Homo sapiens: one gene and its partners. The protein of the gene in region 5 interacts with the protein of the main gene of each other region in a pairwise test. Each region holds a gene or a part of one and is shown on either strand. Other genes may lie near its edges.

Region 1 (4,106 bases), on a different chromosome or scaffold from region 5:
TGAAAGGAAAAAGTGAATCAGGAATAAATATTTGTAATAGTTAGTACATAGTTGGATATTTTCAGAGAAATTTTGTATTGTAAGATTACAGTTAATTTTATGTATTTTTTGAAAAGCTAAACATGTAATTTAGAAATATCAACTTTAATCAGAGATAAGTTGCCAGGGCTTACATGTGAGCACAAGGTAGGCGTTCGTTGGTGAATATCTTTAAGATCAAAGGATGCCAGGAGCGGTGGCTCGTGCCTGTCATCCTAGCACTTTAGGAGGCCAATGCAGTAGGATCACTTGAGGCCAGGAGTTCAAGACCAGACTGGACAACATAGTGAGACTCCATCTCTACAAAAAAAATTTTTTTAAGTCACAAGGATGGGTTTTCCAGTGTAATACTTTAAGATGTAAGTTGGGGTTCTAATGAAATGATGTGATCTAATGGAATATAATTAACTCAAAGAAGATTTGGAAAAAGCTTTTAATGAAGTAGCATTGAAATTTATTTCACTGTTTCTTGGTCCTTCTGATTGGCCCTACGATTTATTTTGTTTAATATTTAGTGGTATGACCCACAGTGAAATTAAACTTGAAGTGTCTCTAGTACTAAAAGAAGATAATAGTGGATGAGCGTGTGACTTATCCATGGAAGAGAAGAAAAGTGAAGAGTTCTTTTGTTTTTTAAGAGACAGACTTAGTATTGTTGCCTAGGCTGGTCTCCAGAGCTCAGGCGATCCTTCCCACCTCAGCCTCCCAAGTAGCTGGGACTATAGGTGTGAGATTTTTAGAAATCCTTCATGTAATAAAAATATTTAAGAAGGGAAAATAGAACTCCTAAATGTTTTTGGCATGTCATTCCCTTCATTTAGTAATTGGGTTTGCATGCTTTTCTTGACAAAGGAATTTCTGTACCGCAGAGAGCTTTTTCACTGTGACTATGCTGTGTTTAGCAAAGAAGAGTTTGCCTAATTGATTTCAAACTGATTTCCATACACAGAACATATAACGTTTTAGTAGATATATCTGATAGTTCAGTAATTAATTCACCTAGTTGTATTAGCTCATACTCATACACCACACACGCTGGCCAAAACCCATTGCAGCAAATGTGGGCAACAAAAAAAATCAGCTTTCAACTGGGGAGAGCCACCTTGCAAAAGTGATTGTTCCTGGTAAGTCCTCTCAAGAATTGAAAGATATCATGCCTTGCCTCTGAACAATGCAAGGAAAGAGGCTTGCTGCTGAACATAGACAGTAAAGTCTAAACATTTTATAGCCTTAGATAATGGTTTCTTTGGGAAAGACCTTAAAATAGGAGTTACTGGGGAATGTTTATTAATAATCACGTAGTGCTGAGAAGGAGGATGTCTTAAAAACCAGACTTGTGTCCTGATTCTCCCATCTGTCAGCTCAGCAAGCTTAACACAAGTTATATAGCTTTACTGAATCTTAAGTTTCCCCATCTACACATAGGCTTTGGTAATACTTACTTCACGGGTTGTTGTGAGGAATAAGTGAAGTAATACACGTAAATACACATGTCATAAAGCATATCCTCAATAAATATTGGTTGATTCCAAATTTCATATTGTGGCATTGTTTAGATCACCTACCCTAAAATAAAACTTGATCTGCTTATCTAGCGGATGTTAGTGAAATGACTTCAGCTGATAAAAGGAAAATGCATTTCCTGTGTGTTTATCATTCAAGGTGAAACAGGAGAGAAGTATATAATAGTTTGTTTAAAATACTATCGATAGCTGGCCGACACAGTGGCTCACACCTGTAATCCCAGCACTTTGGGAGGCCAAGGCTGGTGGATCACTTGAGGTCAGGAGTTTGAGACCAGCCTGGCCAACGTGGCGAAACCCCACCTCTACTAAAAATACAAAAATTAGCCAGGCTTGAATGGTGCACGCCTGTAGTCCCAGCTACTCGGGAGGCTGAGGTGTGAGAATGGCCTGAACCCAAGAGGTGGAAGCTGCAGTAAGCCGAGATCGTGCCACTGCACTCCAGCCTGGGTGACAGAGCGAGGCTTGGTCTCAAAAAAAAAAAAAAAAAAAAAGGTCCCAGCTACTTGGGAGGCTGAGGTGTGAGAATTGCTTGAACCCAAGAGGTGGAAGCTGCAGTGAGCTGAGATTGCGCCACTGCACTCCAGCTTGGGTGACAGAGCAAGGCTTGGTCTCAAAAAAAAAAAAAGTCCCAGCTACCCCGGGGACTGAGGCAGGAGAATCGCTTGAACCCAGGAGGTGGAGGCTGCAGTGAGCCGAGATTGCGCTACTGCACTCCAGCCTGGGCGACAGAGCGAGACTCCATCTCAAAAACTAAATAAATTAAAATACTACTGATAGGAACTTAACCCTTGAAAATTCCAGATGTTCACATTTTCACAAAGGGAAGGAGGGCAAATTCTGTGAACTTTACTATGCTAGATAAGGAAGCCTAACTCCAATCCTACGTGAGATTTCTGTCTTGAGTCGTTAACAATACTCTTTCTGAGTACTTAAATGCAGTGAAGCCTCCTGGGATACCACAGGGATTGGCCAACAACTACAGGCACAACTCATTTCCTTTTAAAATGGATTTACAACCCTGGGAGACTAGGAAAATTCAGATATTATAATGGGATTTCAGCAGGCTGTTCCTCTAAAGAGCTAAACAATTTTATTCAGAAGTTGCTAGTTAATGGGAAGGGGCAGCCTCTGGCAGCTTTGTCCTCACCTCTGTTCTCTTTTGTTAGTAACTTAGATGGAAATACTGATTACATGCTGATCCTAAATTCAGGAAGTTGAGACAGTAAATCTGTAGTGTGTCAGAATCCACATCCAGAAAATCTTCATAGGCAAGAATGTAATAAGATGAAACTCAATTACAGGTATATTAAGGCCTATGCTTGGGCCTCTGAATCCAACTGTACAGGTGGGAGCTTAGCACAATCAAGTGTGAAAAAGAACTTGGTGTTTTAGGGAGTTACTCTCATGTGATATTCAGAAAATTTGTAAAGCCAATGCAGGCTGGGTGCGGTGGCTCATGCCTGTAATCACAGCATGTTGGGAGGCTAAAGCAGGAGGATCACTTGAGGCCAAGAGTTCAAGACCAGCCTAGGCAATATGGTGAGACCTTGTTTCTAACAAAAACAAAAAACCTCAGTACAACTTCAGGTTGCATTAATTGAAATTCGTTAGCCAGAATATGAGAACTGAGATCCCATTATGTTCTGACCAGGGTGACTTTACCTCATTTTAATATATGTCCATCAAACTGGAGCATGTGTAAAGAGGAAGACAAAAGGGAAATAGGTAGCTAGGAAACATGCTAGTCAGAGGAATGGCTTAAAGATCTGCATGTCTATTCTAGAGAACACAGTATTTGGAGGCTGTTTTCAGGTATTGGAGCACTTATTTAGAAGGGAGAGCACATTATCTCAAAAGGTAGATTTAAGGCCGGGCGTGGTGGCTCACGCCTGTAATACCAACACTTTGGGAGGCTAGGGCTGGGTGTATCACTTGAGGTCAGGAATTAGAGACCAGCCTGGCCAACATAGTGAAACCCCGTCTCTACTAAAAATACAAAAATCACCCGCGTATGGTCGTGGGCACCTGTAATCCCAGCTACCAGGTGGCTGAGGTGGGAGGATCACATGAGCCTAGGAAGGGGAGGCTTCAGTGAGCTGAGATTGCACCACTGCACTCCACCCTGGGCAATAGAGTGAGACTCCATATCACACACACGCACACATACACATACACACACACACACAAAAGTAAGACTAGTAGATAAGTGACTTTCAGTATCTTGGTAAGTCTCTTAAGCATTTGAGTCTAGCTCTAGAGGAAATAGTGAGTTCTCTGTCACCTGATGAGAGATGCTGTGGAGGGGTTTCGGGCATCTGATGAATAAATATAACAGATGAACAGTAACTTCTTCAAATCCAGAAATTCTGAGATTGGTATATGAATAAATAGGTAGCTTCGAACATGAACCATTTGTAATGATTCTTTAGTTTTAATTTTTTTCTGGTGTATTGGTTAAGCATCTTATCTCTCAAATGGTTAATATTACTTATACTTTATAAAATATTTATTTTTAAATTATTCTCATAGTGGTAATTGCGT
Region 2 (4,106 bases), on a different chromosome or scaffold from region 5:
CCACAAAACATTTCAAAAATAATACTCTGAATTTTATCTCTGGGTCCCAGGCCTGATGGTACCTTCAACCTTTAGCTGCCTTTTGCCTGGGTCTAGAGATAAGAGCCAGTCTCTCACTTGACATATCTGTCTTCATACCCTTAGGTAACTGGAAGACGAGAAACGAGTTGATTTTGGCAACTAAAATCACTAATCATGATGTGGTCAGTTGTTATGTGTTTTGGAAATGAGCAGTTTACTGTCTTATCAGTGAGCATTTCTGTAAGCATTATGAAACTGTTTCCTTGCCAGTGTGGTAATAAGTGAAGAAATGAAGACAGCCTTCTTGCTGAGTGCCAGTTTACTTTCTTTTTTTTTTTTTTTTTGAGACAGAGTTTTGCTCTTGTTGCCCAGGCTGGAGTGTAGTGGTGCAGTCTCGGCCTTGCCGCAACCTCCACCTCCCGGGTTCAAGCTATTCTCCTGCCTCAGCCCCCGGAGTAGCTGGGATTACAGGCATGCGCCACCATGCCCAGCTAATTTTTTGTATTTTTAGTAGAGACGGGGTTTCTCCATGTTGGTCAGGCTGGTCTCGAACTCCCGACCTCAGGTGATCCGCCCGCCTCGGCCTCCCAAAGCATTGGGATTATAGGCATGAGCCACCGTGTCTGGCCATTTTACTTTCTTAATAAGCCCTTGCCATGTAGAATCTGGCTTTACCTAAATCTATGCAAACCGTGAGGTGCATCTTGAAAGCAGCAGTTAGGGTCAAACAGGTAGGGTCCAGGATCATCTGAAACAGTCTTGGATAATGAGGTTGGAGGATATGTGTTTTCTTTATATACCTATCCTCGTAGAATCTCCTTTGCTTGAGGTGATGTGAAATGGAGTTAAGGAAAGCAAAGCAAGAGAATGTGGCTGAGTTAGCTGGGGTTCTGCATCCCCTGAGTTTTCCTTTTTTTTTTTTTTTGAGACGGAGTCTCACTCTGTCGCCCAGACTGGAATGCAGTGGCACGATCTCCGCTCACTGCTAGCCCCGCCTCCCGGGTTCACGCCATTCTCCTGCCTCAGCCTCCCGAGCAGCTGGGACTACAGGCGCCCGCCACCAAGCCTGGCTAATTTTTTGTATTTTTAGTAGAGATGGGGTTTCACCATGTTAGCCAGGATGGTCTCTATCTCCTGACTTCGTGATCCACCTGCCTTGGCCTCCCAAAGTGCTGGGATTACAAGCATGAGCCATCGTGCCTGGCTTTTTTTTTTTTAGAGACAAGCTCTCGCTCTGTCACTTAGGCTGGCATGCAGTGGTGCAAACATAACTGACTGAAACCTTGAACTCCTTGGCTTAAGAGATCCTTGAACTCTTGAACCACTGTGCCTGGTTTATCTTTTTCTTTTTTTTTTTGAGATGGAGTCTCACTGTGTCTCCCAGGCTGGAGTGCAGTGGTGCAATCTTGGCTCACTGCAAGCCCCGCCTCCCAGGTTCACACCGTTCTCCTGCCTCAGCCTCCTGAGTAGCTGGGACTACAGGCTCCCGCCACCACGCCTGGTTAATTTTTTGTATTTTTAGTAGAGACAGGGTTTCACCATGTTAGCCAGGATGGTCTTGATCTCCTGACCTCGTGATCCACCCGCCTCAGCATCCCAAAGTGCTGGGATTACAGGCGTGAGCCACCGTGCCTGGCCTTTTTCTTTTTTTGAGACAGAGGCTCACTCTGTAGCCCAGGGTGGAGAGCAGTGGTGCCATCATAGCACACCGCAGCCTCAACCTTGGCTTAAGCAATCCTTCCAACTCAGCCTCTCAGCTAGGACTGCAGGTGTGTGCCACCACATTGGGCTAATTTTTAAATTTTTTGTAGAGATGGGGTCTTGCTATGTTGCCCAGGCTGGTCGCAAACTCGTGGACTCAAGTGATCCTCTTGCTTTGGCTTCCCAAAGTGTTGAGACAACCGGCATGAGCCACCAAGTCCAGCGCTGAAACTTTGCTTTCTAATTGTTACTACTAGTGCCATGTTTGACACTAACTGTTGCTAACTGAAGTAATAGGTAAAAGTTTAGTTTTTAAGTTCTAACTTTATTTATTTGTTTTTTGAGACAGAGTCTCACTCTGCTGCCCAGGCTGGAGTGCAGTGGCGTGATTTCAGCTCACTGCAACCTCTGCCTCCCGGGTTCAAATGATTCTCATGCCTTAGCCTCCCAAGTAGCTGGGATTACAGGCGTGTGGCACCACACCTGGCTAATGTTTGTATTTCTAGTAAAGATGGGGCTTCACCATGTTGGCCAGGCTGGTCTCGAACTTCTGGCCTCATGTGATCTGCCTGCCTTGGCCTCCCAAAGTGCTGGGATTACAGGGAGCCACCATGCCTGGCCTTAAATTGTAACTAAGGTAAGGGTCACTGTCCGTAAGCAGGATTTAAGGGTAACTGGTAGGAGTGAACCTAGCCTGTTTCTGTGACTGTTCTGTTTACATTGCTGCCATTTCACATGGTTTAGATTGACTCCCAGGTTTTAGGTGGTCAGGTTTGGAGAGAATGACATCTCATTTATACAGTGAGGTTGACAGACTATGGGCGTGAAGTGGTTGCTTTCAAAATTTGGTCTCTGATTTATTAACTTACATTTTCTTCTTTCTGAGGCATTGTTTAACCTTGAATTTATTTAGCCTGCTATAAAAAGCTGGTGATTGTACTTACCAAGAAATAATTTTTTCTAAGTTTAAAAAAAATTACTCAGATAATATTACAGGTCTGCAGACAGGTACTTTAGTATAGTTATATCAGAATCTTAGAGGGTGAGGCCTGAGCATAGGAATTCCGTAAAAGCTCATCTGTGTGATTCCTATGAACTGGCAAGATTGAGAATCATTGTAATAAGATAAAAGTGGGGCCAGACCCCATGGCTCATGCTTATAATCCCAGCACTTTGGGAGGCTGAGGTGGGAAGATCACCTGAGCCTGGAGGATCGCCTGAGCCCAGGAGTTTGAGACCAGCCTGGGCAACATAGTGAGACCCCCGTCTGCACAAAAAAATTTAAAAATTAGGTCGGGCCTGATGGCTCACGCCTGTAATCCCAGCACTTTGGGAGGCTGAGGCTGGTGGATCGCTTGAGCTCAGGAGTTTGAGACCCATCTGGGCAACATGGCAAAACCCCGTCTATATCAAAAATATAAATTAAGCCAAGAATGGTGTATATGCCTGGAGTCCCAGCTACTTGGGGGGCTGAGGCAGGAGGATTGCTTGAACCCAGGAGTTGGAGGCTGCAGTAAGCCGAGATCATGCCACTGCACTCCAGCCTGGGTGACAAAAGTAAGATCCTGTCTCAAAATAAATTTAAAAATTAGCTGGGTGTGGTGGTGCACACCTGCAGTCCTAGCTGGGAGGCTGAGTTGGAAAGATGCTAAGCTGAGGTTGAGGCTGCAGTGTGCTATGATGGCACCACTGCTTTCCACCCTGGGGGAATAAAACATGCTGGGCATGGTGGCTCATGCCTGTAATCCCAGTACTTTGGGAGGCCGAGGTGAGTGGATCACTTGAGGTCAGGAGGTCGAGACCAGCCTGGCCAATGTGGCGAAACTCCATCTCTACTAAAAATACAGAATTAGCCAGGCGTGGTGGCTCATGCCTGTAATCCTAGCTACTTGGGAGGCCAAGGCAGGAGAATTGCTGGAACCCGGGAGGTAGAGGTTGCAGTGAGCCGAGATTGCGCCACTGCACTCCAGCCTGGGCAATAGAGTGAGACTGTTAAAAACAAAAAAAAGATAAACCAGGCATGGTGGTTCATGCCTTTAATCCTAACAGTTTGGAAGGCCGAGGCAGGATTGCTTGAGTCCAGGAGTTGGAAACCAATCAGGGTAACAAAGTGAGACCCCAACTCTACAAAAAAAAAAAAAAAAATTGGCTGGGAGTGTTGGCTCATGCCTATAATACCAGCACTTTGGGAGGCCGAGCAGATGGATCACTTGAGCTCTGGAGTTTAAGACCAGCCTGGGCAACAAAGGCAAACCTCGTCTCTACAAAAAACACAAAAATCAGCTGGACATGGTGGTGAGTGCCTGTAGTCTCAGCTGCTCAGGAGGCTGAAGTGGGAGGGTGGCTTGAGCCTGAGAGGTGGAGGTTGTAGTGAACGAGATTGT
Region 3 (4,653 bases), on a different chromosome or scaffold from region 5:
AGCATCACCCAGGTGAAACTAACACCATTCAGGATCTAGTTTTAGCTTTTTTTACTTTAATTTTTATTTTTGCGACAGGGTCTCATTCTGTTGCCCAGGCTGGAGTGCAGTGTTATGAACACGCCTCACTGCATCCTCGGCCTCTAGGCTCAAGCAGTCCTCCCACCTCAGCCTCCCGAGTAGCTGGGACTATAGGTATGTGCCACTATGCCCAGCAATTTTTTTTTTTTTTTGAGACGGAGTCTCGCTCTGTCACCCAGGGTGAAGTGCAGTGGTGCGATCTCAGCTCACTGCAAGCTCCGCCTCCCGGGTTCATGCCATTCTCCTGCCTCAGCCTCCTGATTAGCTGGGACTACAGGCGCCCGCCACCATGCCCAGCTAATTTTTTGTGTATTTTTAGTAGAGACGGGGTTTCACTGTGTTAGCCAGGATGGTCTCGATCTCCTGACCTCGCGATCTGCCCGCCTCAGCCTCCCAAAGTGCTGGGATTACAGGCGTGAGCCACCGCGCCCGGCCATGCCCAGCAATTTTTAAATTTTTTGTAGAGACAGTTTTGCCATGTTGCCCAGGCTGGCCTCGAACTCTTGGGGCTCAAGCGATCCTTCTGTCTCTGCCTCCCAAAGTACTGGGATTAGAGGCATGACCTACCGTGCCCAGCCTGGTCTTTAGCTTTTCAATTCCAAAAATTCAATCCTGTCTGGCCCCAAAGTTCACAGGATTATATGTGGGCAGAAACCTACCCAGGTGCCGAGGCAAGAGACTGAAGGCACAAACTGTTCCAGTATAATACAGAAAATAGTTAGAATAAGAAAAGTTATACTAGAAATAGGATATAGAGATGATTATATATGGATATTACCAATCATTAGTTTTTAGTACTAATTTCTGTATTATTATTATAACTGAGAAAAAAACCAGCCAATATAGAGTCAAGAGCTGAAGGGACATTGTGAGAAGTGACCAGAAGACAAGAGTTGGGTGCCAGATGTAGGGTCCAGCCCTACTGGGCCTTGTGGGTTTTCTCTTCGTATGCAGAGACGAGAGATTATAGAAAAATAAGACACAAGACTAAGAGAAAGTAGGAAAGACAGCTGGGCCCAAGGGGCCACTACCACCAATGCGTGGAGTCCGGTAGTGGCCCCAAATGCCTGGATGCGCTGCTATTTATTGTATACAAGGCAAGGGGGCAGGGTAAGGAGTGTGAGTCATCTCAAAAGATTGATAAAGTCAAGCAAGTCACGTGTCCACGTGATGGGGGCCTTTCCCTTTGTGGTAGCTGAAGCAGAGAGGGAGGACAGCATATGTCAGCGTTTTTTCTGTGCACTTATCAGAGAAATCAAAGACTTTAATACTTTCACTAATTCACTACTGCTATCTTCCAAGAACTTAAAAGAAGAACCAGGTATACAGGCGGAACATGAAAGTGGACAAGGAGCGTGACCACTGAAGCACAGCATCACAGGGAGACGTTGAAGCCTCCAGATGATTGTGGGCAGGCCTGGCTAATGTCAGGCCTCCCACAAGAGCTGGTGGAGCAGTGTTCTCGAACTCCCCCAAGGAGAGTTCCCTTTCCCAGTCTGCTAAGTAACAGTTGCCTTCCCAGGCACTGGCGCTACCGCAAGACTGAGGTCTGCTAAGTAACGGGTGCCTTACCAGGCACTGGCGCTACTGCTAGACCAAGGTGTCATCAGGCAGCCCTTATCAGGGCGTGACAGAGGACTTTCACTCTTGTCTTCTGCTCACTTCTCACAATGTGCCTTCAGCTCCTGACTCTGTACTGGCTGTTTTTTTTCTCGGTTATAATGATAATACAGAGATTAGTATTAAAAACTAATGATTGGTAATATTCATATATAGCTGGGCACGGTGGCTCACTCCTGTAATCCCAGCACTTTGGGAGGCCAAGGTGGGCGGATCACGAGGTCAGGAGATCGAGACCATCCTGACTAACATGGTGAAACCCCGTCTCTACTAAAAATACACAAAAAATTAGCCAGGCGTGGTGGCGGGCGCCTGTAGTCCAGCTACTCGGGAGGCTGAGGCAGAAGAATGGCATGAACCTGGGAGGCGGAGCTTCCAGTGAGCCGAGATCGTGCCACTGCACTCCAGCCTGGGCGACAGAGTAAGACTCCATCTCAAAAATAAAAAAAATCCATATATAATCATCTCTATATCCTATTTCTAGTATAACTTTTCTTATTCTGTTTTCTTTATTATACTGGAACAGTTTGTGCCTTCAGTCTCTTGCCCTGGCACCTGGGTAGGTTTCCACCCACAATTATGGATAGGTGTTCTCACACTACCTAATTCACAGTATACCAATGGATAAACCACAAAGGCCATTATATCTTGTGAAAAAGCATATGTCTCTTATCCTGGAATCTTGCATTGCCTGGAAGCCTGCACTCTTTCTTTGTGAGACAAGCCAAGGCATCACCAGAAGGTTGCTGGTAGTGACAGAGAGTTGATTATAGAATATTAGGGCTGGTGGGCCGGGCATGGTGGCTCATGCCTCTAATCCCAGCACTTTGGGAGGCCAAGGCAGGTGGATCACGAGGTCAAGAGATCAAGACCATCTTGGCTAACACGGTGAAACCCCATCTCTACTAAAAATATAAAAAATTAGCCAGGCGTGGTGGTGGGCGCCTGTAAGTCCCAGCTACTCAGGAGGCTGAGGCAGGAGAATGGTGTGAACCCAGGAGGCGGAGCTTGCAGTGAGCCGAGATCACGCCACTGCACTCCAGCCTGGGCGACAGAGTGAGACTCTGTCTCAAAAAAAAAAAAAAAGTTTGTTTCAGGTAAAGTGGGGTTGATAACAGGAGCTAACTGGAGATGCCCTACCTATGAATGTTTATTGAGGCACAGAGCAAGCACTCAGTCAGTATTAGCTGCTGCTAGTAAATAATATTGCTAGGGATTATCGAGGTCAGCTGTGTCCAAGTTCTCGGACATAAGTACCACATCTGAGAACTGTAGTCTTACACAGGCACTTTGAGGAAGGGGGTGATATTTTCCACTGTCAGATGAGAAGCCAATTAAGGAACTGTGTAACTCTGAACACATCTGATGGCTTTTCCCAGCCCTCTTTCTCCTTCAGCCAATGAGAGTTGCACTAGGTGACCTCTGAAGCCTTCTTGTTTGGCACTATGACTGGATGGAAGGAGAGGAATCAGTGAGGCTCAGGGGAATCCTCTTCCTCGTCAGAATGGCCCAGGGATTACGCCCCCGCCTTTTGTCATGTACGGGTACAAGGGGAGCAGAGGGAAGATGGAAGTCAGGCCAGCCTCAGGCCCATTGGCATGGGTACCACTGCCTGGAGGAGCCGCCTGCCCAGCTATACAGCCAGGTCCAGGCCCTCCTGAAGGGCAGAAACTTTGGACCTGAGTCACATGGAATGCTGATGTTGTCACTAAGGCTACCCATCATTCCCCTCTCTGTAGATGACCTGGATGGACTCCTGAGTGAGCTTCCTGAAGACTTCTTCTGTGGGACCAGTAGTTGAGACTGCCCCAACGCAGGACAACCCACCATGAGCAGGCAGCTCTGGGCATGTGTCTGGTCACATCCAAGGGGGAGAAGAAGGCCAGCATGATTGGAGAGTGGACACAGCCGGGGGGCTTCTGTGGTTGCTCCCACCCTGGGTGTTTTCCCTGAGAGCCCCCTCATCTCTGCGCTGCCCTCACTTTGGGCCTTCCTTTGCCGTTGGCACCAGAATCCGGCCGGAGACTGGCTCTCCAGCCAACAAGAAAGGCCTGTCACCCTCGCCTTGGGTGTCCCTCTCCTGCCTCAGCTTAATTTTAGAGGATATTGGGCCTGGTTTTCTTGTCCCTTCATACCCTAGTCCCTGGACAGCTGAGGAGATGAAAGGAGCCACACCACAACAATGGCGGCCTGCCCCTCCACACAGGGGAGAAGCACGCTCAGGCTTCCTCTGCTTTGTCTCTTCAGACCTGTGGTTGCTCTGCTCATCCATGCCCAAGGTTCCCAGGTGCAGGACAGAGGTGTGGCCTATTGTACCTTGTTCTGAAATAAAGCATCTCCTGCTTCTTCTGCCTCCCTTTCTTTTCCACCCCCTGCTGCTCCTGCCTAACTGCCCTGCCAGTGCTGTGTGGCCACAAAAGGGCTCAGGCAACTCTTTTTCTCTTTTTTTTTCTTTTTTATATACTTTTAGACTTCTAAAATTTTTTTTTTGAGACGGAGTCTCGCTCTGTCACCCAGGCTGGAGTACAGTGGCGCTATCTCGGCTCACTGCAAGCTCCGTCTCCCGGGTTCATGCCTTTCTTCTGCCTCAGCCTCCCAAGTAGCTGGGACTACAGGCTCCTGCCACCACGCCCGGCTGATTTTTTTTTTTTTTTTTTTTTTTTAGTAGAGACGGGGTTTCACCGTGTTAGCCAGGATATTCTCAATCTCCTGACCTCATGATCCACCCCGCTTGGCCTCCCAAAGTGCTGGGATTACAGGCGTGAGCCACCATGCCCGGCCTTAGACTTCTAAATTTATAGATTTATTTATTGCAAAGATAGTACAGAGAGTTCCCACATACCCCACACCCAGTTTCCCAGTTAATATTATTTTATTTATTTATTTTTGAGCTGGAGTCTCGCTGTCGCCCAGGCTGGCGCAATCTCCGCTCACTGCAACCTCCACCTCCCA
Region 4 (4,106 bases), on a different chromosome or scaffold from region 5:
TATTCAGCTCCTTTCTTCTCCAGATCTAAACAAACCTAGCATTTTTCCTCACCTCCACAAGATGAAAATAATTCCTTGCTTTAAAATAAAATAGTTAGAATCATGGTATGGAGGTAAGTCTGCAGAGCCCATAAATATTTTTTAAGAGGCTGAGAATATTTTCAAGAAGTCAAAGCTATCATGACAACTTCGTGATGGCCTATAAATATGCATTTGCTGAATTGAATCTCACCTGAAGCCAATCATTTTTGTAAGAAAGAAAATGACACAAATGTACATGCATGGACAGGAAAGGGTCTAAAATTTTGTGCAACATCATTATCATCATAGTTTCATCTAGGCTTTTGGGGGGAGTTTTAATTTCCTTCTCTGCGTAGTTGTATTTTCTAACTGTTCTATAATTTATACACATTACTTACATAATAAAAAAATTCAATACATTCATCAAATGCATGTCCAAAAATAAAAGGATAGAAAAGGCCAACAGCCAGGGAGGAGAAAGAAGAAGCAGAAAAGTGAGAAGCAAAGGAAAGAAGCTTCCGAATCAGTCCACACTAAGTGAGAGGGACACAGAGCTAAGTCACGAGTCTCCATCTTTATCAAACCCTGGAGTCCCATTCTTCGTTCTGGTTGGCAGGGTTAACAGACCTCAGGCCAAGTCCAATGCAAGGCAATAATAAAGAAAAAAAACTCTTTAAATGGCATTAAATGAAACTTTAAACGGTGGAAAATTAATAACTTGTTGCTGGGGGTGGAGATGGAGTAGGCTCGGCAATGCTGATATTCACAGAACTGAGGCTCCCCACCTTCACTTTGCATCTCAGGCTCCGGGAGCCACTTAAAAGCAAGCTATCTATTTCCAAGAAGTAAATCTCTTGGACGGATACCTTATGTTCACGAGCCCGCGAGGGAAGGTGCTGGGCTGTGTATTGGAGCTCCCAGCCAGAGAAGACAGCTATCTCTTTTGGCACAGGTTCTCAGGGATGAGACCATGTCTAGCGGGGATTTTCTCCAGATTCGACAGCCTTGGCCCTACCAAAACGCACAGCTTTGTTTTCACCACACATCACTCATTGTTGAGTCTTTTTTGTTTTTCCTCTCAAGCATCCACAGGTTGAATACTGTGTGTTCCCAACAGCCTGTGAACTTCTTGGACCAGCAAAGGGACATTCATTTTGCTGAGCACTCCTTTCACATTTCTATTGTGTTCGATTTCCCACTCCCCCTACCCGAGTCCCCAGAGAATAACTTCTTCCTTGTTTTAATAACTTGGATCACAGTCAAGGTTGATGTGTTTCTCCATTTTGCAGGATATTTTCTTCAGAAGAGACAAAACAGAGGCCAACAGGGTAGGAGAGGCTTGTTCGGAAATCAGCAGCCATTGAGAACACACAGAAAATGTTTTCAAAGAAATAGAAAGCAGATAACACAAGGCACCATCAATAGAAGGCTTCAAAATGGTGGACTCATACTCAGAAAGATTCCCCAGCAACGTTTTCTCCCAGGGACCCACTTTAAAAATCTAATTTCATTTGTTTGGGGGTGAGGGAGAAGAAAGTACTTTCCGTAAAGTACCTTCTCACTGACTTAAATTGAAATACATTCTCCCATTGGAGGTCATAAAAGTAGCTGTGATCCCAGTGGGTATGCAGAAATTAGAAAATGAGTAAAGGGAGAAGGAGGAGAAAGGAGCGGTTCAGTCACACAAGTATATCCCACCTCTAACACAGCAAGTTTTCATTTCATCTGCCCATGTTCTTTATAAAATCCTATCCCCACCCATTGTAACACTGCTCCCTGACATCTAATGAAAGATGTCTCCGTGGACTTGCTTGGGATACAAGGAAACAAACCTATTCTTTGTGAAGCCACTTTTTTGAAACGAAACATTTTCAAGGAAAGAAGACCCGAACCAGCATTTAGTGGGGTTTAGTCTGAGGTGCATGATCTTTTAATAAAAAATTGATAATGCCTCTTTTTTATGAGTGATATGGAAATTACATCTTTCTTCTCTAAAACATGAACCAAATCACCAGTTTTTCCTGTAATAGATCAACCTTGTCACATGATTTTTCTTAACATTGATTTCAAACAGTGTCAAGACACTAGTTATGAATGAACACAAAAAGTTATGTGTCTGAATTTGTCTTCATGGAATACCTTTTCTCAAATGTATTCTCCATATTAATACTTTTCATACCATGGCAAAAGAAAGTAAATCCAGTATCACAAAGAACAATGACCCCAACCCAGATTGGTCTCCCCTGGGGAAAGGCCAAACTTTCTACTGGAATTACAGATTCAACTAAATCCAGTTCTGGGCTGTTCATGAGTTTGGAGGAGACAGCCAAGGTGTCACCATGTTTGAATGCTAAAAGTGAGGCAAACTGTGGGTCATGACACATCAGTGGGTTGTAAAATCAATCTAGTACATCACAATCAGCATTTTAAAAAATGAAATAGGATAGAGAGAAAAAGTCAGCATGCAGAGCATGTCATAAGAGTATTGCTCAGTGAAAATCTATGTTGTGTGTGTGTATGTGTGTGCACATGTGTGTATATGGGATCTCACTGTAAAGGGTATTTCTAACTGTGGTCACAGTCTAAAAGGTTTCCACCCATTTAAGAAGCTCTAATCTAGGGCCCAGGTCCTGGAGTCAGACAGAACTGATTCCAACATGGCTCTGCCACTCACTTACTATGTGACCTTGGTTAGATAGCTTAATCTCTCCACCTCCTCAGCTAAAAAATTGGATGTGGCCATAGTGTCCTGGGGGTGTTGTAAGATCAGATCAGAAGAGGAAACATGTACAGCCCCTCACACGGCACCCAATACTGTTTATATACATCCTTAGATAAATGTCCAGTTCACAAAATGGAAGCGGAAATTCGTGGATTTACAGTATGTTCTACAGTGTGAGAGAAGATGGTAGGCAATTAGCTAATTGTAATTTTTGCTCTGCAAAACAGTTGTTCTTTTGTGGAACTATCTGTTGGGCCATCTAGCCCTTTTTATAACAGCTCCCTGAATAAAGTTAATATTCGAGAAATATACATATATATTGTGTTTGTTTGTTTTGTTTTGTTTTGTGGAAGGGTCTCACTCTATCGCCCAGGCTGGAATGCAGTGGCCTGATCTTGGCTCACTGCAACCTCCGCCTCCCAAGCTCAAGCAATCCGCCCACCTCAGCATTCCAAGTAGCTGGGGTTACAGGCATGTGCCACCACGTCTGGCTAATTTTTTTGTATTTTTTGTAGAGAAAGGTTTTCACCACATTGTCCAAGCTGATCTCAAACTCCTGAGCTCAAGTGATCCACCCACCTCAGCCTCCCAAAGTGCTGGGATTATAGGCGTGAGCCACCATGCCAGGCCAAGAAATACATTTTTAGTCAGGGCGCAGCAGCTCATACCTGTAATCTCAGCACTTTGGGAGGCCAAGTGTGGCGGATCGCCTGAGGTCAGGTGTTCAAGACCAGCCTGGCCAACATGGCGAAAACCTGTCTCTACCAAAAATACAAAAATTAACCAGGTATGGTGGCAGATGCCTGTAATCCCAGCTACTCAGGAGGCTGAGGCAGGAGAATCACTTGAACCCAGGAGGCAGAGGTTCCAGTGAGCCAAGATCGTGCCACTGCACTCCAGCCTGGGTGACAGAGTGGGACTCCATATCAAAAAAAAAAAAAAAAAGAAATACATTTTTATTTCAGAAATCCTTTCTAAGATGTAAGTAACGGACCAATGAAAACTCTTCTCATTTTTTTCTTATGTAGGATTGAACAGAACAAATTGTTCACACTTTGTGCTTCATCCTTATAATACAGCTTCTGCCTCCTCAGCAAGTGACTAACAGTACATGTCTAAAGACCTTAAAAAGTATCGAAATTATCTTAACCATGGAAATATCCAGCTGCAAATACATGCCAAATTCCTTATCTGTAATTTTTGTAACTGAACAAACAAGCCCCTGTATTACAGCATGAAGAAGTTTTTGAAACTGAAATGTACTGCTCACTTCACAATCATGTTCTGTCTATCCTTGCTATTTAGCTTGGGGAAGGTTATCAAGTTCTGAGGAGAGGAGAAAGGAGAAAAGGAAGGGAGCCAG
Region 5 (4,106 bases):
GCAACAGTTCAACAATGGCTTTAGGTCAATGTTAAATGTTACCTACTCACTTCTAAGGAAACAACCAAATGACCATTTGATTTTTTTTCTTTACATCCAGAAATGTTGGCATTGGTTAGAAACAAATATCCCACCCATCATCATCTTACCATTTCAATATGGGAGGGATGATCTTCACTTTATAAAATCATCCCTTTTTGGTATATTGCATCCACACTGCATTCTCCCTAGAAATGGGATGAATTTTATTTTCATTAAAATATTATAGACAACTTTAATTTGGTTCTCCCAAGAAGCCAAGAAATATAACTGTCCTAGCAGACCCAGGAGGAAGGCTGTGCAGCAGCCAGAGGCTTTGCATCAGAGTATACCCGGAGACCAATACCTACTTCATTTATGGTGGAGGTATACTTCACTTGCTAAGCACACTCACACAGGTGCACACACAGAGGATGTAGGAAGCACAGACATCAAAAGGAAGAAAATGGAGACTATTTGAAAAGATAAACTCGAAAGCTCAAAAAGTGTATATCTTGATTGAATTACTGTCCAGAGAAGAGGGGAGGTGTATGGCTCCGAATTGGTCTTAAAGATACATACCTTTTTACTCAAGTAAATGAAAAAGTATGCTAAAAGCAAGGAGCAGTCTTTGAGATGAGGAAGTTTTTGTGGAGAAGAGACAAATATGGTTGCTATCATGCTTTTGTAGGTAACAACAGTCCTTTAAAGTGTTCTGTCTGCAGACGTTTTCACAATGCAAAAGTCCACATTTTTTCCTATTCCATTTTTCAGGCTGCTAGAAAGTCACTGCTGAAAGTGTTGCAGATTCACATTAACAAAGGCACAGTAGGTACTGAAATTCAGAGTCATCACTGTCAGTAGCTAGGTGGCCTCTGAGAACATTTTTTTTTCATGGCACATATCTGTTCCCTCATCAGCTTAGAGGGCAAATTGATAACCTGAGGTGTTTATTGTTCCCTGACTTTCACAGCACTTTGATGGTCTTGAAGCCAAGAAAGATTAGGGGACATCTAAGTTAGTCTCTTGTGTGTGGGTTCTACCTCAAAGAGTGTGAAAAAATAGGAGACTTCATTTCATGGAGTATTTCACATTTGAATATGACATTAGGTTAACCTGAACATTTTGAGTTAATTTCTAAAAGTCTGTAAGTTCCAATTTCGTAATTCCAAAGAAGAGGCATGTATTTTTGCCGTTTCAGAAACAGATTTATCTAACTCTTACCATTTTTTGCATAGAATTATATTAAAAGCTAATTAAACAAGAGAAAAAAGTTTTTTCCATTAGGAATTAGAAAATATAATGATTTTATATTTATCATTTATGATACTTTTTTTTGTTCATTATTCTCCAAAACAATGGAAAATTATGGCAGGTTATTAGATCATACAATGCCAGGTACAAAGTCAGTGGTTGGTGAATTTTGTTGAAAGAACTAGGAATATAATTCTGAAACAATTTAAGATGCCTTGCCTTTAAAAAATCTACCTTAAGCATAGTGAATTTGGGTTTTGTTTTTTTTTTCTCTTTTGGAGGTGGAGTCTCACTCTGTCACCCAGGCTGGAGGGCAATGGCGCGATCTTGGCACACTGCAGCCTCCACCTCCAGCCTTGGCCTCCCAAAGTGCTAGGATTACAGGTGTGAGCCACTGCACCTGGCCAGTACATTTGTTAAAAGGCATATATTCCATTTACAAGCACTTCATATAATTTTTTAAAGTTACTTAAAATATGGGCCCAGCTGGGTGTGGTGAGAGTAGCAATGACCCAGGAGTTCAAAGACCTTGACTGTAGGCCAGGCACCAATAATAAATGGTCGGATGGCCTTGAGAAAGTGACAGCTCTGCTGGGTTTCAGTTTCCACATGAGTGACATGATTGATTTGGAGCAGGTTACTTCTAATATTCCATGCAGCTTCAAAATTCCACAACTGAATAATTCAGGTTAAGGAATTTGTACCTAAATTTAATAGACACTGATCCAGTACCAATATATGCCAGGTAATATTATAAGCACTTTACAAAGTATTTAATGATATAATAATTTTAATAAAGCATAGACCGCATATGGGGTAGCATTTCCTGCACTATGAAGTATAAACAAATGATAGTAGTTTTACTAACATTCAATATAAGTTATTTAAAAAAACAGAATAGAAATAAAATAATGCTTGGAATTGCAAGTAATATAGGAATGAAATTAGTTATTCCATTTAAACTGCCAAAAAAAATTATATGGTCAAAATAAGTGATTTAATCTTTATTTGACTTGAGAGAGTACACTAGATTACACATGCTTCACATCTGTCTCATTGTAAATGACTTGGCTGCCATAAACTTGAATGTTCTCACATATTAAATCACATAGGAGAAAATTTTTGTGAATCAAAGACTTTCTACCTGTATTACATCTTAATATAATACTCATATTATAAATGTTTCAAGTGCACAACTCATTTGGGAGAAACAAGCTGGAAACCATTATATGATCACAGTAGAGCTTCTAAATATCAGAGAGGCTTATTTCATGTGTACAGTGGGCACCTGGTTGCCTGAAGGTTGGAACAAAAGATAATACAGTGAAAGAGAGTTTGATTGGAAAGCTACTAATAGGTTTCAGTTTCTAGGCCTGGTTGAACAGTCCGACTCTCAAGCTAAAGGGCTGGAAATGAGTGGAAATTTGTCAAGCCAGGCAATTTCCACATCTTGACATGCTGCATGGGCCCTTGTTCCATTACTTTCACAACTGCTAGGACTTCAAGCATTTTCATCCCCTCCTCAACCTCCTTTACTCCTATTCCTCCTTAAGGTCAAGTTCAAGTACTAATTCCTCTGAGAAACTCTTCCTGAGTCAACATTTCTGGCTCCCCTCAAAGTTCCTCCACCTACACAAAGGGTTGGACAAAGATTCCATAAATGCTTCTAAAGCATCTGGTATAAATCTCTAAAATATTTACATTATTCAGCCTACCATATTGAATTACATTATTGGTCTATAGTCTTTCTCAGTGAACTGTGAGCTCCTTGAGAATAGGAACTATGTTAATTCTTTTTTGGATCCCCAGAGTCTTGACACAAATGACATGCATTGTTTGTTAAATCCATGAATGAATGGGTGGATGACAGTGGTAAGGCATTTACTATTAAAATAGTTGGCACCACTGGATCTCCATGCATTATAATTTGGTTGGGAACTGTGATGAGAATTGACTGTTCCAAGGAAGGCAATGGAGTAAGGGATGTATTTCTTGCACATTTGCAGAGTATCTTCATAATCAACAATTTGGTTTAGGTCATTCTCCCTGACTCCATACTGAGAATAGTAGAGAAATTGAGAGGAAATGAAACACATTAAAAAAAAAATCTATTCCGCCAGGATTGGTGGCTCACGCCTGTAATCCCAGCACTTTGGGAGGCCGAGGCGGGTGGATCATGAGGTCAGGAGTTTGAGATCAGCCTGACCAATATGGTGAAACTCCTTCTTTACTAAAAATACAAAAATTAGCCGGGCAAGGTGGCATGTGCCTGTAATCCCAGCTACTCAGGAGCCTGAGGCAGGAGAATCACTTGAACCTGGGAGGTGGAGCTTGCAGTGAGCCGAGATCGCGCCATTGCACTCCAGCGTGGGTGACAGAGCATGACTCCATCTCAAAAAAAAAAAAAAAAAAAAAAACCACAAAATCTATTCAACAGATATTTAGTGAACAGCTACTATCCAAGGTGCTCTGTGTCCTAGGCAGACCCAGATTCTACCCTCAAAAAAAATATACTTTGGATATTTAAGAAATTCACATAAAGGAAGAAAGCAATACATGACATAAAAGACTTCAATGTTTACCAAAATGAAAGAATATGTAATAAAGGGTATAGAATGGTCAGAGATGTCAGAAATAAATTTGCTGGATTCCCAAGAAGCTCTCACTGTGCGGGAGAGCTAGGTTAGATCACTATGGCTCACAACCTGCTCTCAGCTATAAAGGTCCTGGACCCAGAGATGGTCAAGTCCAAGGAGATTGGCATACATGCACACCAAGCTTACCAGGGATTGAAAAACCAAAAGGCCAATGACTAGATGAACTGGATAATTAAT
Region 6 (4,106 bases), on a different chromosome or scaffold from region 5:
TCTGTAAAATGGAGACGATAAAACCTCCCACACAAGGGTGTTAGGAGGATAAAGTAAGATTATTCAAGATAAGTGCTCAGGAGAGTGTCTAGCTCTTGAGTTACTAAAATACACCATTTGTTGTTACTGTTGCTCTCCCAGCATGTGGAATGCCCTTCATATATTGGCACATATTTTAGTACTGTTGCATGTTTCAGGTTGTCAGTGTTTAGCAAGGACAGTCTGTCATCTATCTTTAAGAATGCCCAATTCTTCTTCTGAATGGTGAGTTACATTGTTGATCACCACCTAGATGTTGGGCCCATCATATGCCTATGCCATTTAATCTTCACAGCTCTATGAGGAAGACAGGGTGGGGAGGATGGGAGACACTGACTCAAGAGTTATTCACCTGTGGCCATACCACACAGGTTAGAATTGTTTAAACTTCAATACGGTATGATTTCCCTTATGTATTATTTCTCTCTCAGGTAGAAAAATCTGCTAATAATATTTACGGCCTCATAGGTTTTAGGGATTACCTAAGGCAGTGCTTCTCAGTATTTTTTAAAATTTATTTTTAAAAGGAGCCTTTTCACATTTTTCTTAATCTCTGCCCCCTTCCATGAAATTTTAATATTGTAGATATCCTCTGCAACTGTTTTACATATAAAAGAGAAAGATTTTCTCAAAGCTTCCCACCCAAGAGCCAGTGTTTGCTCCCTTGGGGGAGAATCTCCCCTATGGAGAATGCATAGTCTAGAGGTCTTTATAAGAGAGGCCTTCCCTTACAGTAGCCATAAGGGTGAGCACAGGAATCCATACAGATACCATGGAAAGACATAAAGAGGCATTCTCTGCTTCACGTAAATATGGCATCAGCATAGAACATACACTAATGTTCCCATAGAGGCAAGATTAAACACATAAGTTTACTCAAGAGAGTCCAAAGAACTATTTAAACATTTAAAGATTTCCCACTGAAGTCTTCTGCAAGAGTGGGTGTGAGAGCCACCCAGAGGTAATAACTTTCTTTTAAAGAGCGGTTCCATTTATGCTGGAAACAGTCTTGTCGTGTAGGTCCATGAAGGTTTACATAACTCAAAACTTAATATTAAGAACATGCTGTAATTCTGATTAATATTTTTAGCTAATCAATTTATACTTACACACGAGTCTGATTGCAGTTAATCCCAGCATGTTCAGTTATTGACATAGGATCCTTTAATTCCAAAATGTCGGGACACATTTAATAAGATGAGTGGGTTGCTTTTTTGTTTTTATAGGTTTTACAGGAAAAGTATATTCAAACCCAGTATATTCAAAAGCCATACTGTGGATGGCTTTTTTGGCCCATGGCCTTGGGATCCACATGTCTGAAACTGAACTCATTTTTTCTCCCTTCTGTTTCCCTTTTCTGCTTTTTTTTTTTTTTTTTTTTTTTAGGTTAATTGTGTTCATCTGCAGATGAGTTTTGTAATCATTTTGTTTTGTTTTGTTTTGTTTTGTTTTGTTTTGTTTTGTGTTTTCTGTCCTTTCCTTCCCTGTCCCTTACCACTTCCCTTCTGCCCCCAAGAAATAAGAACCTTTGCTGGTTCTTCCTACTTTGTTTCTGGTGTCTAGCTTTTTGTCAGCCTTCCTGTGTCTCTGCTGTCTATTGAGCAATGTTAACTGTGTGCCTGGTCTTGTGCAGTAGCCCCTTGTTATTCTTCTGCTTCTGTTTTTCTCATCTTTCAATCCAACCCTCATATGCCAGCAGGTGCATAGTCTTAGAACAGCTCTTTCACCTTGCCACTGCAGGTTATCAGGAACCTAGATTCCCATTGTGGACAACATTTGTCTAGAATTAAAAGCTCATTACAATTTGGCCCAGCCTACCACTTTAGCCTCACTTCTGTTCTCTTATGGCATCACTTCCAGTTTAGTAAAAATGCTTTGTGCTTTGTTTTCCTACTTCTGAACACTTGTCATTTAAGCTGTACCCCATTTTTACCCTCTGTCTCCTCCATAATGCCTCTTTTTTTTTTTTTAACCTTTTAGCCCTTAAAACTCACTACCCTTATCTGGGCCATTCCTATAATACAGATCCCTTAATATGACAGTTTTCCTCTTCTTCCTGAATATGGGTGTTTTAAGAGGACTTGCCTGTCTTACATCTTTAGTATACCTCATAGCTTTAGCACCATGGCTTGTACTTTAAAAATATTGATTGATAATGATTCTAGTCTTTTCTGTGAATTTTTCACTGTTTTATTTCCATCTCTCACTGGTTTGACCAAGACGTTATTCCTCAGTTTGATTCAGCAAACTATGTAGTTCCTGCTGTGTCCAAAGTGCTAAGGAGTACAGAGATAAATACATCTTATCCTCTGCCTTCAAATGGCCCCCATTCAATGAGGGAGCCTGACTGAGGGAGCTGTCTCAGACCCAGTGCTGAGAAACAGCATCATGTAGCTCATCCCCGCTGGTTCAGAAATGCAAGGCAGGGAATATGTGGAGATGTTGTGGGAAGGGAAGGCAGAGAGCAGGTGATGGAAGGATTCATTTGCAAAGCTGAGAGTTTATGGTTCATTTTCTAGTGAAGAAGAGAGAGTGAAGAACTTTGAACAGATAAGACATGATCTCACCTGAGAGGCCTTAAACATTGGAAATAGCATAAGCTTTGAAATCAGAGCTGAGTTTGAATTCCATCTCTAAAACCTGTGACTTTGGGAAAGTCACCAAGGTTTCCTGAGCCTCACATTCCCTATTTATGAAATATCAGGTAGGCGAATCTCACCTTGCAGGGTGGTTGTGAGGGCTAGAGAGTTGTTGGGAGACAGTTTTCTATGGGTCTTTCACGTTTTTGCACACCTTGCTAGCAAAGGCACTGGCTGCCTTTGTTCTGGACTTTTTTTATACAGTAACTAGCTTTGGAAGGCAGAGATGATGTTACCCTCTGGAGCAAAGGACAAATTTGTGTATTCTTGAGTATAGTAAAGGTAGTGTCTCCTTTCAGGGCTGAAGTCAGACATGTCTTCTGCCCCTTGTAAGAGAATAGTGTTCCCTGAGCTTGGGGTTCCTCGGCTGTGATGCAACGCCTCTGCCTGCACAACATCCATGTGAGCCCCTCCATGTCATGGCTATGGGACTTGCGGGGCAAGAGAAACAAACACATGCTTTCTGCTCATAAGGTTCTTTGTTTCTGAGTCTTCTTCATGGGAGTGAAGATTTCACAGGAGTCCGTGTCTTCTGTCAGCACCTATGAACCTGTGGCCAACTAACTTTGTTAGCTTGTAAGTAGGGTAAAATCTCAGACCCTTCACGGTTCTTAACAAGCATTTAGGTCATATGAAATGCAGGGTAAATATTTGATAAATGTTATAATAATAACCATTATTCTTTATCAGTGATCATTTAGGCATTGTGGAAGATGATGAGTTAGACATACCAGTTAAGAGGCCATAGTCCAAGATGATGAAAACATAAAAACAGATATTGTCAGTGGGAACCGAATAGAGAGAAGAGAGAACTGAGAGAAACTAATGAGACATTGACAATATTGGGGGATTAACTGGATAGGAAGAAAGAGAATCAAGGATGACTTCAAGATTTATGGTTTTGGAAAGAAACAGTAGCCATCAGTGAAGACACGATACATGAAGAGGGGAAGATGAAGTTTGTAAGAGAGGGTGACAAGCTTGGGGGAGAGGGGCAGCCAGGTGGTAAAGTGAGTAGGCAAGGAGTCTAGAGCTTAGGGGACGCTATTGATGGAGAGAGAGGTTTGGGAGTTAAGAAAATCTAGATGATCATTAAATCATAGGAATGGATGAGTCTGCACTGGGGTTTTCACCGTGCTCAAAGGGTTCTGAAAATGTTCTGTTTGAATTGCTAATAGAGCTGGTTTCTATCCCCAGCTCCACCATCACCCCGTCCATTAACCAGAACAAAGACATCAGGCCTCCAGCATAGCTGCTTGGATTAGAGCCAAGTGTGAGGATAGATCCCCTCCCACTGGGCCTTAACCCTGCTTCCAGGTGCTGAGTTTGACAAGGTTTACTTTGAGAAGACAGTTCCTTTGCTGAAAGCAGGACTGAGGAGAGACTGAGGAGTGGAAAGAGAAAGGGGCTAAAGGCTGAACTTTCAAA
Region 7 (4,106 bases), on a different chromosome or scaffold from region 5:
TGCTGCTGAAAAAGAACAGTTGCTACAGTGCAGCTGGAGGAGCTTTTCCAGGGAACTGGTAATACCCTGGCTGTTAATGAATTATTTTTCGCCAGAATGTCGGATTCTTCCTGTGCTCCAGTAAACAGTCTGCTTCTGCCATGTGAAACAAAACCAACTCCTTCTGAGGAGCCCAAGGGGGTCAGCCAAGGGTCCCCTGTGAGGGCAGCCCCCTCAGGAGCCAGAGCCACAGGCGCCTGACCTGTAAATCACTGCAGTCCCAAGTTCATTATCCCATCCCTTTCCGTCTATTTATGCCATGACCAGTGCCTAGGGAAGGACCCAGAAATGATGTGATGTGATGATACCATAGTGCCAGCCAAAATCCTTCTTCTACCTCCCTGAACTCTCCTTTGGCCAGGTTTCTTCATCTGCTGTGCTATGGTTGTGTGAAATTGACCTTCCTTGCATTTATTCTGTCTCCCTCGCAGAAATTTTATTTATGTCCTTGCTCTTGTTCTCATCAAGCTGTCAGGAAATGACAGTGTGCATTCTCTTTTTTATTTTCTCTCCTTTAAGGCTGGCCCTGGCCCTAAATAACCCACTGTCAGCATGAGGGTGTCTACTGGCGACATTACTCTCCAAGCACAAATCCCTGGGATGGATAGTACTTTAAGCTGCTACTAGAGCAGGTGTCAAGGAATTCTCCGATGGACAAGGACACCGGCCTGTGGGGTGGGTGGGGTCGAGGAAAGGAAAGAGCCATTTCATTCAAGCCAGTCCTGCCTGTGCCCATTCTATTGGGTTTCTGGGTCCCACATTCCTCATAGAGCATGAGACTGAGCCAACATGCTCATGGCTAGTTTCCACGGGGAACCTCCATCATGGCACCTGAGCTACTGAAAATCAAAATCGCTTGATGCCAGGCTGCTGTGGCTACTGACTCAGCCCCCTGCCTCCCACCTGCCATCGAGATGGAGAGCGTTTATGTCCCCAGAACATCTGGAGGCTGAAGTCACGAGGTTGGTTAGTTTGCTCCAGAGCAGCTCTGTCTAATAGAAATGTTTATGTAATTTAAATTTTTTTTGTAGTCACATTTAAAAAAATAAAAGAAGCCACTAATTTTAATACTCTATCATATTTAACTAATATATTCAAAATATTATCATTTTACCATGTAATCAATGCAAAGCTTATTAATGAGCTATTTTGGATTCTTTTTTTGTATTAAGTCACAGAAATCCCATGCATCTGTTATATTTAATGCACATCCTAATTTGGACCAACCACTTTTCAAGCACTCTATGGCTGCATGTGGCTAGTGGCTAGTGTGTGGGACAGTGCAAACATGTGACATTTCCATCATCATAGAAAGTTTTATTAGACAGTGCTGTGCTGGAAGACCAAAAAGTTGTGGGAAGAGGAGTGACAGGTGTGAGCAGAGTGTGCTCCAAAGTTCTCTAGAATTACTGAGTTGTTGGAGCTAATTACAGCAGAAATTGGAATTACAAGGATTGGGATGTTCAAGGAGCCCAGCCCTATGTCTCAGTAGAGATTAAAATGGGCTTTTATGAAAGGCCCTGGGACCATGCATAGTCTGAATGTGTCTGTCCCCTCCAAACTCCTGTGTTGAAATCCTAATCCCCAACGTGATGGTATTAAGAGGTGGGGCATTTGGTTGGTGATTAGGTCGTGAGAGTGGAGCCTTCATGAATGGGATGAGTGCCCTTGTAAAAGAAGCCCCAGAGAGGTCACTTGCCCCTTCTACCATGTGAGGGCACAGCAAGAAGATGCCATCTCTGAACCAGGAAAAAAGCCCTCACCAGACACTGAATCTGCCGGTATCTTGATCTTTGACTTCCCATCCTCCAGAACGGTGAGAAATATGTTTCTATCATTTATAAGTCACCCAGCCTATGGGATTTTGTTATAGCAGCCCAGACGGATGAAGGCAGACCATGCCCATGTTTTGCGGTGCTGCCCCACAGCAGTGGGAAGGCCAGCAAGTATGATCATGGCTCAAGACATCTGCTGGCTAAGCTGCCTCCATCTTAGCTGTTCTGGTCTGTTCAGGGCAGGGGCTGGGAGAGAACACCAAAGTCACATACTTCTTCCAATAACAATTCTGGGTTTGAATCTAATTTGGTGAAGCAGATACAGAAACGTGATCAAATTATGTGTGCCTGTGTCTGTGTGTGCATGTGTGTTCGTGTGTGTGTTCTTGGCAGGAGAGAGGAGGGTCATGTGTGAACTCCAGAAGTACTAACCTGGCCGCCAAAATCAGCTTCTCACCAGCTGCCATCAGAGGACAGTGAAGTGGCAGACTCAAGAGGCTCATCAACATTGTGAGCCATGAAGGAAAGGCTTTGAGTCTGGAAAGAATGAGATGATGGGCACCCGGGCAGACGATCAGGTGGGAGGGAGAAGTGGTAATCAGAGGCATTCTCCAAAGACAAGAGCTGCCAACTCTACAGCAAGGATGTCACCCTGATCCCCAAATCAAGCTTAATTCAGAATCCCACGCAGGCTTTTGTGTGTGGGAAGAGTGCAATTAGCCATCTTTCCCCCTCATTCTCTGAGGTCTCCCTCATATTCTGTTCAGGGAGGCAGCATTGAGGAGCTCCTCATACATAGATTCAAAGCCCAGCTCCCTCGGTGGCTCCAGAATTTCTAGGAGTTTGAAGACTACCACCTGGTTGGAAGGGGGCTACGGGGCTTGCTTTAACGATACATTTGCATAGCAAGTTCCCTCCTCATTTTCCTATAGAGTGTTTGTTTATTTGAGACAGTTTCTAGTTAAAAATACCTCACCCAGCCTTTGGTCCCTCGTGGACTTTGAGTTAGTTGCTTAACCTTTCTGAGCCTTAGTTTCCTCACCTACAAGATGGGAATAATCTTGCCCATCTCCCATGGATTTTGTAAAGATTAAACTGGGGCTTGTCAGCATGGAGCTACCAAGGGCTAAAACTGGAATATGACACCAGGAACTTCAGGCCCCCAACCAAACGTACAAATCTCTGGATCTCTCCTTGCTGGGTCTCCCTTAACAATGATCTACAGCCCCCTCCCCACTGCCATTCACTCCATCAGTGCCATCATTTAGTCACTCAACTCTCATTTATTAAGCAACAGTTGGGTGGTGGGGACTCCAAGATGAAAGGGTACAGTCTGTCCATCTGACACAGGGTATTTCGGATCTATCTACTTGGCACATAAGTATGCACTGTGGGTGACTGGGTTGCCCACTGGTGGGCTTCCACCTTCCCCCCAATCCCCACCAACTGTGTACCAGATTTTGCCAAGGTGGAGGGGCTGAAAGATCCAGCAGGAAGAGATCCAGAGATTTGTATGTTTGGTTAGGGGCCTGGAGTTCCTGGTGTCATACTCCAGTTTTAGTCCTTCGTGGTTCCATGCTGACGTGTCCCACTTTAATCTTTACAACGTCTATGTGAGATGGGAAAGATTATTCCCATCTTGTAGGTAAGGAAACTGAGGTTCAGACAGGTTAAGAGAAATAAATAAGAGACCTGGAGCAGGGGAATAGGGACATGTTGCCCCTTTAAATCATAACCACCAAAGTCTGAAATCAGATACACAACTGGAAATTTATCTGAGCCTCAGATTCCTTATCTGTAAAATAATTCTTCCATCACAGGGTGGCTGAGAAGGTTTACCACATGTGAAGTGCCTAGCAGACAGAGGCCAACAATACATGTTAGTTCCCTTCCCAATTTATTTCCCTCCACTACCATCCTCTCCAAAATTCTAAGCTTAGGGGAGAAGCCAGAGAACAGACGTTTCCTATTTTCTTATCATAAATTTGGAGCACGCTGTGCAGGGCTTTCTGCACATCCAGAGTATCTCCATTCTGGATCAATGGATTTGGGAGGCCAGTCCTATCCTCAGCTTCTGGGTCATTACAGCTAGAGCACTCCCAGCAACAGCTCCTCACACACCTTCCAGTCTTTGATTTTTCTTTCTTGTAGTTCAGATGGTCCTGTTTCAGGGACTCTGTATTCTGGATACAAGATTTTGAAATGTGTCTTACAGTTCTTCCCCAGCTGCCCACCAAACCGTGTTCTCACCCCAGCGATCGGCATCGCTTGGAAAACTGTCTTTTCATTTGT

Evidence for each region.
Region 1: the proteins of TRIM55 (region 5) and LAPTM4A interact in a two-hybrid assay, tested with the Homo sapiens proteins (one large-scale study listed by BioGRID).
Region 2: the proteins of TRIM55 (region 5) and RNF10 interact in a two-hybrid assay, tested with the Homo sapiens proteins (one large-scale study listed by BioGRID and IntAct).
Region 3: the proteins of TRIM55 (region 5) and HROB interact in a two-hybrid assay, tested with the Homo sapiens proteins (one large-scale study listed by BioGRID and IntAct).
Region 4: the proteins of TRIM55 (region 5) and WT1 interact in a two-hybrid assay, tested with the Homo sapiens proteins (one large-scale study listed by BioGRID and IntAct).
Region 6: the proteins of TRIM55 (region 5) and MPZL1 interact in a two-hybrid assay, tested with the Homo sapiens proteins (one large-scale study listed by BioGRID).
Region 7: the proteins of TRIM55 (region 5) and RAI2 interact in a two-hybrid assay, tested with the Homo sapiens proteins (one large-scale study listed by BioGRID and IntAct).

The regions. Positions count from the first base shown.
Region 1 is NC_000002.12:20,041,162-20,045,267, reverse strand, and holds part of LAPTM4A (lysosomal-associated transmembrane protein 4A), read left to right. Parts: intron 1-4,106. UniProt on the Homo sapiens protein: May function in the transport of nucleosides and/or nucleoside derivatives between the cytosol and the lumen of an intracellular membrane-bound compartment.
Region 2 is NC_000012.12:120,540,507-120,544,612, forward strand, and holds part of RNF10 (E3 ubiquitin-protein ligase RNF10), read left to right. Parts: intron 1-4,106. UniProt on the Homo sapiens protein: E3 ubiquitin-protein ligase that catalyzes monoubiquitination of 40S ribosomal proteins RPS2/us5 and RPS3/us3 in response to ribosome stalling.
Region 3 is NC_000017.11:44,158,431-44,163,083, forward strand, and holds the end of HROB (homologous recombination OB-fold protein), read left to right. Parts: intron 1-3,440; coding exon 3,441-3,502; 3' UTR 3,503-4,046; downstream 4,047-4,653. UniProt on the Homo sapiens protein: DNA-binding protein involved in homologous recombination that acts by recruiting the MCM8-MCM9 helicase complex to sites of DNA damage to promote DNA repair synthesis.
Region 4 is NC_000011.10:32,411,202-32,415,307, forward strand, and holds part of WT1 (Wilms tumor protein), read right to left. Parts: intron 1-4,106. UniProt on the Homo sapiens protein: Transcription factor that plays an important role in cellular development and cell survival. Recognizes and binds to the DNA sequence 5'-GCG(T/G)GGGCG-3'. Regulates the expression of numerous target genes, including EPO.
Region 5 is NC_000008.11:66,144,129-66,148,234, forward strand, and holds part of TRIM55 (tripartite motif-containing protein 55), read left to right. Parts: intron 1-4,106. UniProt on the Homo sapiens protein: E3 ubiquitin ligase that plays an important role in regulating cardiac development and contractility, muscle growth, metabolism, and fiber-type differentiation.
Region 6 is NC_000001.11:167,766,393-167,770,498, forward strand, and holds part of MPZL1 (myelin protein zero-like protein 1 isoform a precursor), read left to right. Parts: intron 1-4,106. UniProt on the Homo sapiens protein: Cell surface receptor, which is involved in signal transduction processes. Recruits PTPN11/SHP-2 to the cell membrane and is a putative substrate of PTPN11/SHP-2.
Region 7 is NC_000023.11:17,854,684-17,858,789, forward strand, and holds part of RAI2 (retinoic acid-induced protein 2), read right to left. Parts: intron 1-4,106.